2 separate regions of the Homo sapiens genome follow, and region 2 is linked to region 1. Evidence: fine-mapped expression QTL. A gene starts in region 1. The other region holds a variant in brackets. All regions are shown on one strand. Distances are between the middles of the regions.

Region 1 (5,237 bases):
CTGCCTCCCTGGTCCTGATTTGTAGCATTTGTCCATTTTCTCAAGGCAAACCCACTCATCATGGCTAATTTCAAGCTACCAACATGACAGCACTGAACACAGCTGGGAAGAGATGCGCAGTAACATACCACTATGCAGCATCTTCACCACACAGCTACAACAGATGTAAATAACCTCAAGTGCATAGACAGCAGTGAAATGTAGTACTGAGGTTGGTGCAAAAGCAATCACGGTTTTTGCTTTTAATGACAAAAACCGTGATTGCCTTTTTACCAACCTAATAAAATAATTAGAAAGTGATGAGTTTGGAGTATTAATTACCTTTGTTGTTAACATAATTGTAGGTTTATATAATTTAACTTTTAATAATAGCTGGAATTTAAAAATTGGTTTACAAAATTTAACAATCAGCTCCTGTGAGTCATTACGAGCCAGCTCCAGCATACCACTGCCTATGAAGTGGATCAATATAATGTTATTGAGAGAGAGACAAAGAGAAAATGAAAGAAAGATTCTTCTCACTTATGCACTAAGATGCTTGATGGAGAGGCCTAGGGCCTGGAAATTTTGTACAATAGCTTGTAGCATTGGGGGCCCTTCGTAATAGAATAATAACAGTATCTGACATTTATATAGCAAAACACATTTTTATTTAACATTTTCTCATTTTTGAGCCTCACAACAAATCCAAGGGAAAGATAAGCAAGGCATGTTACAGATGAGGGGACTGAGAGTCACTGAGCAAAAGTGACCACTGACAGAGCTGACACTAGAATCGGGTCCATGAGACTTGCAGTTCACAGACTGTTTTCATACCACCCTGTCTCTTTGAACCCCTGTCATCCCTGGAGCAGCCACTTATTACAATCTGGGATGTTGTCAGCCCTCATCCCCAGAATTCAGTCCAGGAGGCAATTCTGCATCTTCACAAATAAAGAATAAAATAAAGTTAGGCCTACAAATGGGCAATGATAGCTGGCTGTATTAACAGCTGTCATAGCCGACTCTAAGATGAGCCCCAGTGATCCTTACTCCTTGGCGTTCGTGTCCTTGGACTCCTACCCTGAATAGGGCTGACCTGTGTGACCAGTAGGATATTACAGATCTGATGGCACGTGACTTCTGAAGCTGGCGGTAAAGAGCACTGCAGCCTCTGCTTTGTTTTCTTTCATCACTTGTTCTGGGGGAATCCCGCAGCTGTATTGGAAGCACCCATGGAAGGGAACTGAGGCCTCCCACCAACAACCAGCCCTACCTGGCAAGCAGTGAGTGAGCCACCCTGGAAGTGGATCCTCCACCTCTACACAAGCATTCAGCTGAAGGCAGACCTGGCTGACATCTGAACGGAGCCTCATGAGTAACCCGACACCAGAATCACCCAGCCAGTGCTCCCACATTTCGGACCCACAGAAACTGTGAGAGATGATCAATGTTTATGCTGTTTGAAGCCACTAAATTTGGGGGTAATTTGTTCTGCAGTAATAGATACACTGAACAGCTTTTAAAGCTGCGCGATATGGGCTTTGGGTCACGTCAACCAGATACAGAAAGGCTTTAGGGACTCAAGAAACACTTTGAGTAAACTTGTTTTCCTCTTTTCACCAAATAAACTGAATTTGAGGCCAATATTTGAAATCTTTGTGCTATATAACTTCTGAAATACATTGTATTCTTAATGCGTTTCCAAGTGACCTGTTGTCCATAGAAAAGTACACTCAACACTGAATGTATCTGCTACTCTGAAGAGCAAGACAGCTCGAACTGGAATTCACTCAGACACCTCATAGCACGAAATCATCTCATAGCCTTTCAGACCCCATCTTCACTGCCACCTTTCATTCTTTTGGGTCTCTGGGCCATGACATCCCCTGTCCTTTCGGAAAGCAGGAACGGAGGGATATAACGAAATAAATTAATTGGGAACGCAGCGGAGCTAGGGACCCTACTGGATGTTGGGGGTGGAACTTTTAAATCATTTACAAAACACCAGTCCCGACCTCCCCTGGAAGACTGAGCTGTTACCTCTTCTGGCGTCCGTGCCCGCGGAAGTTCGCTCCTAGGGAAGTCGCTCGCGTCCTCAAGAGCACCTGAGAGGATCTCGGCGAAGCGGAAGGCTTTGGTGCCAGCTGGGAGAGTCTGCGCCGGATTTCCTCAGCTCCTTGGCGCGTTTCCTCGGAGCCGGGGGAGGCAAAGCACGGACCCCGGAGTCGGCGCCCATAGCGGGACGCCCTCGCGAGGGGCGGGAGTGCGGGAGGTGGGTGTGCGGGCGGCGCGCTCGCCCTCCAGCTGCAGCCCGCGCCGAGCGCGCAGGGCCAGCGAGCGCCGGCGCCTCCAGCATGGAGTGGGAACTCAACTTGCTGCTCTACCTGGCGCTCTTCTTCTTCCTGCTCTTCTTACTTTTCCTCCTGCTCTTCGTGGTCATCAAGCAGCTGAAGAACTCCGTGGCCAACACGGCCGGGGCGCTCCAGCCCGGGCGCCTCTCGGTGCACCGCGAGCCTTGGGGCTTCTCCCGAGAGCAAGCGGTGTGACCCGAGTGCGGGCACTGGCGGGAGGGCACCGAGCTGCGCGGGCGCTGGGCTGGGTCTCCGCCTCGATTCTCCGTCCTCGCGGCCTCCCAGCTTCCAGGTGCGGGGCTCGGCGGCTCTGACGGGTCCGTTCCGGCGTGAGGCGCAGGGACCCGCGTCTCCGCTCCTGTGGGAGGCCCGGGGCTCGCAGCGCGTTCGGGTGCCAGGGACGGTGGGTGTATGGGGTCTGGGCTGGCGCTGTGCTCTTCGAGAGGGACCCTAAGCTGTTCCAGGGCTGGGAGAGATGGCGAAAAGAGAATTCGCCCTTTGGAGCCGGAATGACTTTGGACAACTGCAAGCTCTTTTCTGTCCAACTGCATTTTAGTTATACCCAAGGAGTGGAAAAGTAAATTATTCGGATAATGCAGTTTAGCCACTTTCGAACAAAATCGCAGGTTAACCTGAATATCCACATTTTTGAGAAAGACTGTGTGGGCTTTGGGACGGGTGGCAGGAGGAAACGGGGCGCACTTAAAGTATTTTAAATATTGCTTTAAATATTTTTGCGCTTTGAGAGATGGTAAATGGGGTTCGTCTGGTGGTGCTGGGGTGGGGCGTGGGGGAGAGAAGATTCAGTCGTCCATTTGGAGGGAGGAATCCCTTCCTCCCGGTGATCCTTACTCATATTCTAGCCACCAACCACGGTTAGTGCTTGCGGATTGCCGTGCAGGGTAGGTTTCGAATCTGGGACAGCGGATGGTGAACGTTACAGTGAGAGTCATTTGGAAGATGCCTTAGGGTTGGCCGGTACGTGACCTTTTGGGTGATGGCATGGAGGGCCAGCTAAAAGAGGTACTGTTTGCATAGTGTAGGGAAACAGGAAAAAGGACGGAGAGGCGGGTCTGTGGTTTCAGGTTAAATTACTAGAGCTTTTGCAGAAGATGGGCGGGCAGGAGCAAACTCGAGTACCAGTATGCCCTAAGTACCCTCTCGCTAATGTTAGTTTGGGAAATATCTTCATCCTTCAGTAGCTTTTCCCTAGATTTATGTCATCTCTCTTTCTAGAGCCGAGCTGCTGCCCTTGACTGGTGCTCAGGGGACCACAGCTGCAATGACAGTTTGGGCCTGCAAAAAGAAGGCTGGAACAACGGGAGATGGAAGCTTTCTGCAAATGGTAAGTTGGGATGACGCATGGTTTCACGTTGGCCTTAGTTATGACTAAACTTCTAAAGATCCAGGGCCTAAAAACATGTTGGTTCAGGATGGGGGAAATGGGTACAAGGAAGGAAAGGGCACTCTCCCACTCAAATCTGGTGAGCTTCTACCAGATCCACAAAGCCAAACTGACTCCTAACTCATTGCAAGAATCAGTGTCTTAGTAGAGGATTGTGGAAATTTGAATGAGATGTCAGGAGTGTTTGCACTTTTAATAATCATTCGGCCCTTTTGAAAAACAGTGCGGGGGTTCATGGGGTGAAATATGTGATGCAGATATACTCAATCTTCAGTAAGGGAAGATTTGGGTTTAGTCATGTCAGTGTGGGATAAGCTAAGTCATAACTATAGTATTGAAAATACTAATTTTAGACACAAAGACCATATAGAGAGGCTAAAAACAATGAAATACTAAAGTTTGCCTAAGTTGATAATATAAAAGTGAAGTGTAAGACAATTATTTTAATGCTTCAAAGGAAAAATAGTCTCAGGTGAATAATTTTGGCCCAAGACATTAGATAATTTCCCACTTTCTATTTCACTCTCCCCAAATAGGCCTGTTCTTAATGAAGTAAGAGGTTTACTTTAATTATTATGGTATGAGCAAATCCTCACCTCTTTATCAGAGTTATGGTAAGACTTGATTTGAATTCCCAGTTTGAACTCCCTGAATCAACTGCAGTGATTCTGTATTGTGCTTTGAACAATAGTTCTCTAATTGGTTGATATCTCTGCAGTGGCATTTAGTTAAAAGGTTGTATGGTTAATATGGACATTGAAGATGAGTGTGGGAGTAATTAATTAGCAATTATAGTTGTTTGTAAGGATTGAAAACAATCATTTCACACTTTAGAATAACCAGAATGGAAATTATTTTAACCACATGCTTGCCTTCTTGAGTTTACAATCCTTTAATCTTCCTAGCAGCACCACTGGTATCCATGAATTTAACCTGCCCATCATTCTTCCTAAACAAGAGACTATTGAAAAGTCAGGGTGAGTAGTTTATTACCATCTCAGTATTAATCCAATCTCTCAGCTGGTTCTACTGACTCAGGTTCCTAAGAAAGCAGGGGTGCCTTTCTATCTTGTATCCAGGGCCATTTTATTAACTCCTTGTAATCAAATTCATTAATGACCAAGTTCCCATTTATCCAGGCCACAATGAATATTTATTCCTATTACTCAACCTCTGCTTGGAACTTGACTCTAAGCTCTGGGAATTAAGGTAACTCACATTTGCTCTTAGATCTTGCTGCTGTTGATCTCCTGCCCTGCACTTGCTTTGTTAGAGACTCTGCTTTTGAAACTTTGACAGCTGTAGATGAGCTGTCTTTTGCTGTTTATTTATTTATTCAATCATCATTTTTCCAAGACCTGACATAGACTGATCTCTCAAATTAGAACTACTTTCAAACTCACAATTTTGGCCACCTTTATGCATTTTTGGCTTAGATCAAATACTCTGACACCCACAATGGTCTAGGTTGCAGGCTTCTACATGTTGGCTACTCCATC
Region 2 (5,237 bases), 130 kb before region 1:
GTTGTACTAGTTTACATTCCCATCAACAACATATTAGAGTTCCCTTTCTCTGCATTCTTACCAGCATTTTTTTTTTGTCTTTTTGATAGTAGACATTCTAACTGGAGTGAGATGATAACCTCATTGTGGTTTGGTTAGTGATGTCGAGCATTTTTTCATATATCATTGACCATTTGTATGTATTCTTTTGAGAAATGTCTGTTCAGATTATTTGCCCATTTTTAATTGGAATTTTTTTTTTTTTTTTTTTTTTTTTTTTTTTTTTTTTTTGCTGTTGAGATGATTGAGTTCCCTGTATATTCTGGATATTAATCCCCTATTGGATGAGCAATTTGCAAATATTTTCTCCAATTTTGTAGGCTGTCTTTTCACTGTTGTTTTTTCCTTTGTTGGTATGAACCAAACCAAGAAGCCTTTGGTTTGGTATGATCCCATATGTTTATTTTTGCTTTTGTTACTTCTGCTTTTGAGGTCTTGTTCATAAAATATTTTCCCAGACCAGTGTCCTGAAGCATTTCTCCTATGTTTTTTTCTACTAGTTTTATCATTTCAGGTCTTACATTTAGGTCTTTGGTCCATTTTGCCCTGATTTTTATACAAGGTGAGAAGTGGGAGTCTAGTCTTATTCTTCTGCATATGGATATCCAGTTTTCCCAGCACCAGTTATTGAAGAGACTGTCCTTTTCCCAATGAGTGTTTTTGGCATCTTTGTAAAAACTCAGTTGGTTATAGACACATGGATTAATTTCTGAGTTCTTAATTCTGTTCCATAGGTTTATGTGTCTTTTTATGCCAGTACCGTGTAGTTTTGGTTTCTACAGCCTGGTAATATATTTTAAGGTCCGATTGTGTGATACTTCCAGATTTGTTCTTTTTGCTCAGGATTGCTTTGGCTATTTGGGGTCTTTTATGATTCCCTACAAATTTTAGGATATTATTTCTATTTCTGTGAATAATGTCATTGGTATTTTGATAGGAGTTGCATTGAATCTGTAGATTGCTTTGAGTACCGTTGTCATTTTAACAGTAGTAATTCTTCTGATCCATGAGCATGTGGTACATTTCCCTTTGTTTGTATCCTCTTCAGTTTCTTTCATCAGTGTTTTGTAGTTTTCCTTGAAGAGGTCTTTCATCTCCTTGGTTAATTTATACCTGAGTATTGTAAATGGCATTGCCTTTTTTATTTTCTTTTTCAAGTAGTTTGTTGTTCGTGTATAGAAATGCAACTGATTTTTGTATGTTAATTTTGTATTCTGCTACTTTACTGAATTTGTTTATCAGTTCTAAAAGTTTTTTGGTAGAGTCTGTAGGTTTTTCAATGTATACGATCATGTTGTCTGCAAACAGGGACAATTTGACTTCCTCCTTTCCAATTTGGATACCCTTCTTTCTTTCTCTTGCCTAATTGTTCTGGCCAGAGCATCCAATACTATGTTGAATAAGAGTGGTGATAGTGAGCATCCTTGTCTTGTTACACTTCTAAAAAACCTTTCAGCTTTTCCCAGTTCAGTAAGATGTTAGCTGTGGGTTTGTTGTATGCCTTTATTACATTGAGATTCTTTCTTTCTATACCTAATTTATTAAGATTTTTTATCATAAAGGAATATTGAATTTTATGAAAAGCTTTTATCATCTGTTGAGATAATCATACAGTTTTTATCCTTCATTCTGTTGATGTGATGTATGATGTTTATTGATTTTTGTATGTTGAAACATCCTTGCATTCCTGGGATAAGTCCCACTATCAAGTGGGATTTTGATGTGATTTTGGATTTGGTTTATTAATATTTTATTGAGGATTTTTACATCTATGTTCATCAGGGATATTGGCCTGTAGTTTTATTGTGTCCTTATTTTGGTATTGGGGTTATACTGGTCTCATAAAGTGAGTTAAGAAGAATTCCTTCTGCTTTAATTTTTTCGATTAGTTTGAGAATAATTAGTATTAATTCTTCTTTAAAGGTTCAGTAGAATTCAGCAGTGAAACCATTTGGTCCTGGACTTTATTTTATTTTTTTGGGAGATGTTTTATGCACTCATTTAATCTTGTTACCTGTTTTTGGTCTGTTTAGATTTTCTATTTCTTCTTG[G/A]TTCAATCTTGGTAGATTGAATGTGTCTGTGATTTTATCTATTTTCCCAGGTTTTCTAATTTATTGGCATATGGTTATTCATAGTAGTCTCTAGTGATCTTTCATATTTCTCTATTATCCATTGTGATGTCTCCTTTTTCATTTTCTGATTTTATTTATTTGAGTCATATCTCTCTGTTTTTAAGTTACTCTAGCTAATGATTTGTCAATTTTGTTTATCTTTTTAAAAAAAACTTTGTTTTGTTGATTTTTTGTATTTATTTTAGTCTCAATTTTGTTTATTTCTGCTCTAATCTTTATTATTTCTTCTACCAATTTGGGGTTTGATTTGTTCATGCTTTTCTTGCATGCTTTTTTCAAGCATTTTTTATGCTTTTTTCCCTTTATGTGCATCATTAGATTGTTTGAAATCTTTCTAGTTTTTTGATGGATGTAGGCATTTATTGCTATAAACTTGCCCCTTAATCCTGCTTTTGCTGTGTTGCATGGGTGTTGGTATGTTGTATTTCTATTTTCACTCATTTCAAGGAATATTAAAATTTCATTCTTAATTTTTTCCTTGACTCATTGGTCATTCAGGAATATGTTGTTTAATTTTCATGTATTTGCATAGTTTCAAATGTGCCTTTTGTTATGATGTCTAATTTTATTCCATTGTGGTCAGATAAAATACTTGATATAATTTTGATTTTATTAAGTTCCTGAGACTTGTTTTATGTCCTAACATATGGTCAATCATAGAGAATGTACCACGTGCTGATTAAAAGAATATATGTTTTGGGGTTGGGTCTGGTAGCTCACACCTGCCTTGGAAGGCCAAGGCAGAAGGATTGCTTAAGCTCAGGAGTTTGAGACCAGCCTGGGCAACATGGTGAGACCTTGTCTCTGCAAAAGTGAAAAAAATTAGCCAGGCATAGTGGCACATGCCTGTAATCCTACATACTTGGGAAGATGGGGTAGGAGGATCACCTGAGCCCAAGAAGTTGAGACTGCAGTGAGCCATGATTGTACAACTGCACTCCAGCCTAGGGTACAGAGTGAGACACTGTCTCAAAAAAAAAAAAAAAAAAAAAAAAAACAGAATGTGTACTTTCCAGCTGTTGGGTAAAATGTTCTGTAAATATATTTTTGGTCCATTGGTCTTGGTGTAGTTTAAATCTGATGGTTTTTTGTTGATTTTCTGTCTGAATGATCTGTCTAATGCTGAGAGTGAGGTTGAAGTTCCCAACTATTATTATATTAGGATATATTTCTCCCTTTAGACTTAATAATATTTGCTTTATATATCTGAGTGCTCTAGTATTGGGTGCATGTATATTTATAACTGGTATATTCTCTTGCTGAGCTGATCCCCTTATTATTATATAATGCCTTTCTTTGTCTCTTTTTAAAGTTAAAGTTTTACTTTTGGTAGTTACATTGTATTCCATCATATGGTTATACTTATTTAATCATTCTTTTATTGATGAAAATAGAGGATATTGCTAATATTTAGCTATTATAAGCAACACTGTAGTAAGTCATTTTGTATATATAACATCTCAATCATGAACAAATACATGGAATTGTCTGGTTAAAGTATATTTGAATTTTAATTTTTTAGCTATTATCAAACTGATGGAGCTTGTACTAACTTACATTCTTACAATAAATATATGAGAGCACCTATTTCCTCCCTAATTTACAAACAGTGTGTTACCAAAGGTTTTTATCTTCACCAGATAGGTTAAAATGTGCTGCTTTGCATTTCTTTATCATGAATGAGTTTTACCTTCCTTTTTATGTTTAATGTTATATATCCTTATGTCTCCATATATATTTGCTTTACTTGAAGGGCTTTTTGTTATCAATGAAGAGGAATTCTTCATATTTTAACAATATTAGCCTTTGTGTTATGACTTAAGAATGTTTTTTACCAGGTTATTGTGTGTCTTTTTAATATTTAAAGTATTTTTTCCCATTCACAACTTTTTTTATTTTTGTATAGTCAACGTTACAAATTGTTTATGGCGTCAGGTTTTGTGTCCTACTTGGAAAGATTTTTCCCCCATAGGAGATTATTTAATATTTTTAACTCATATTTCTTTAGTTCTTTCACTTCTTTGGACTCTGAAAATATTTGATTCATATAGAATATATTTTCATTTAACCTGTAGGATGGGAATCCAAATATGTTGTCTTTCCAGATTATTATACAGTTGGGTGTGTTGAATAATCTATCTTTTCTATTGATTTGAAATACCACTTTAATAATTTACTAAATTCCTGTATAAATTTATTTCTAGGCTTTTCATTCTGTTCCACTGATCTATTCATGCTGTAGAACCACATTATCATAATTATTATAGTTTAAGACAAAAATCAAACAAACAAAACACACATACATGTGCATTCTTGCACGTGTGTACATACACACGCACACACGCACACACACATACACATCCTTACTTCAGGGTTTTTATTTTACAGAATTTCCTATTATTTTTCCTTTCATTCTTTTTTTTTTTTTTTTTGTGACAGAGTCTGCCTCTCTTGCCCAGGCTGGAGTGCAGTGGTGCAATCTCGGCTCACTGCAACCTCCACCTCCTGGATTCAAGCAATTCTCCTGCCTCAGCCTCCCGAGTAGCTGGGACTACTGGTGCCTGCCACCACACCCAGCTAACTTTTGTATTTTTAGTAGAGATTGGGTTTTACCATGTTGACCAGGCTGGTCTTGAACTCCTGACCTCAAGTGATCCACTTGCCTCAGCCTCCCAAAATGCTGGGATTAAAGGTATGAGCCACCAGCACCCAACCTCTTCCTTATTTCTCTATTTGAATTTTAAGGTGGGCTTGTCTGCTGGTATCTTTATTTTGATCACGTTAAGGCAAATTGATGCTTTATAATGTTGTGTTTTCTTTTCTAAGGATATACTTTTCGATTTATTAGGTCTTTTGTGTATTCAGTGACATTTTAAAGTAGTCCCCTTATTATTTATATTAATTATGATTAATTTGGTGCAGTTCTCACAAAACCACCACATACAAACCTTTAAATGGCTAAAAGAAAATAGAAATTTATTTCTCTCTCATGTTCCTAATGTGGTACCTAACAATGTCAGGGACCCAGGCTTTTTCCATCGTATTACTGCATCATGAATGGCTTTC

The links. PIP is the estimated chance that this variant, and not a neighbour inherited with it, causes the effect.
Region 2: its variant is the best candidate, but not a certain one, in a credible set for the expression of SMIM43 in blood mononuclear cells (TOPMed, PIP 0.81).

The regions. Positions count from the first base shown.
Region 1 is chr4:121,762,205-121,767,441 of GRCh38, reverse strand. SMIM43 (small integral membrane protein 43) reads left to right here and starts at 2,278. Exons shown (of 6, transcript NM_001384332.1): 1 at 2,278-2,625; 2 at 3,570-3,678; 3 at 4,644-4,715. The coding sequence starts at 2,337. The coding sequence ends at 2,528. PP12613 (a long non-coding RNA gene) reads right to left here and starts at 2,857. Exons shown (of 1, transcript NR_024365.1): 1 at 634-2,857.
Region 2 is chr4:121,892,487-121,897,723 of GRCh38, reverse strand. The region is part of intron 10 of TRPC3 (transient receptor potential cation channel subfamily C member 3); the gene reads left to right. Among named protein-coding and RNA genes, the nearest start is that of BBS7-DT, 24 kb to the right of the region's middle. The variant G/A (reference allele first, on the strand shown) is at 2,091.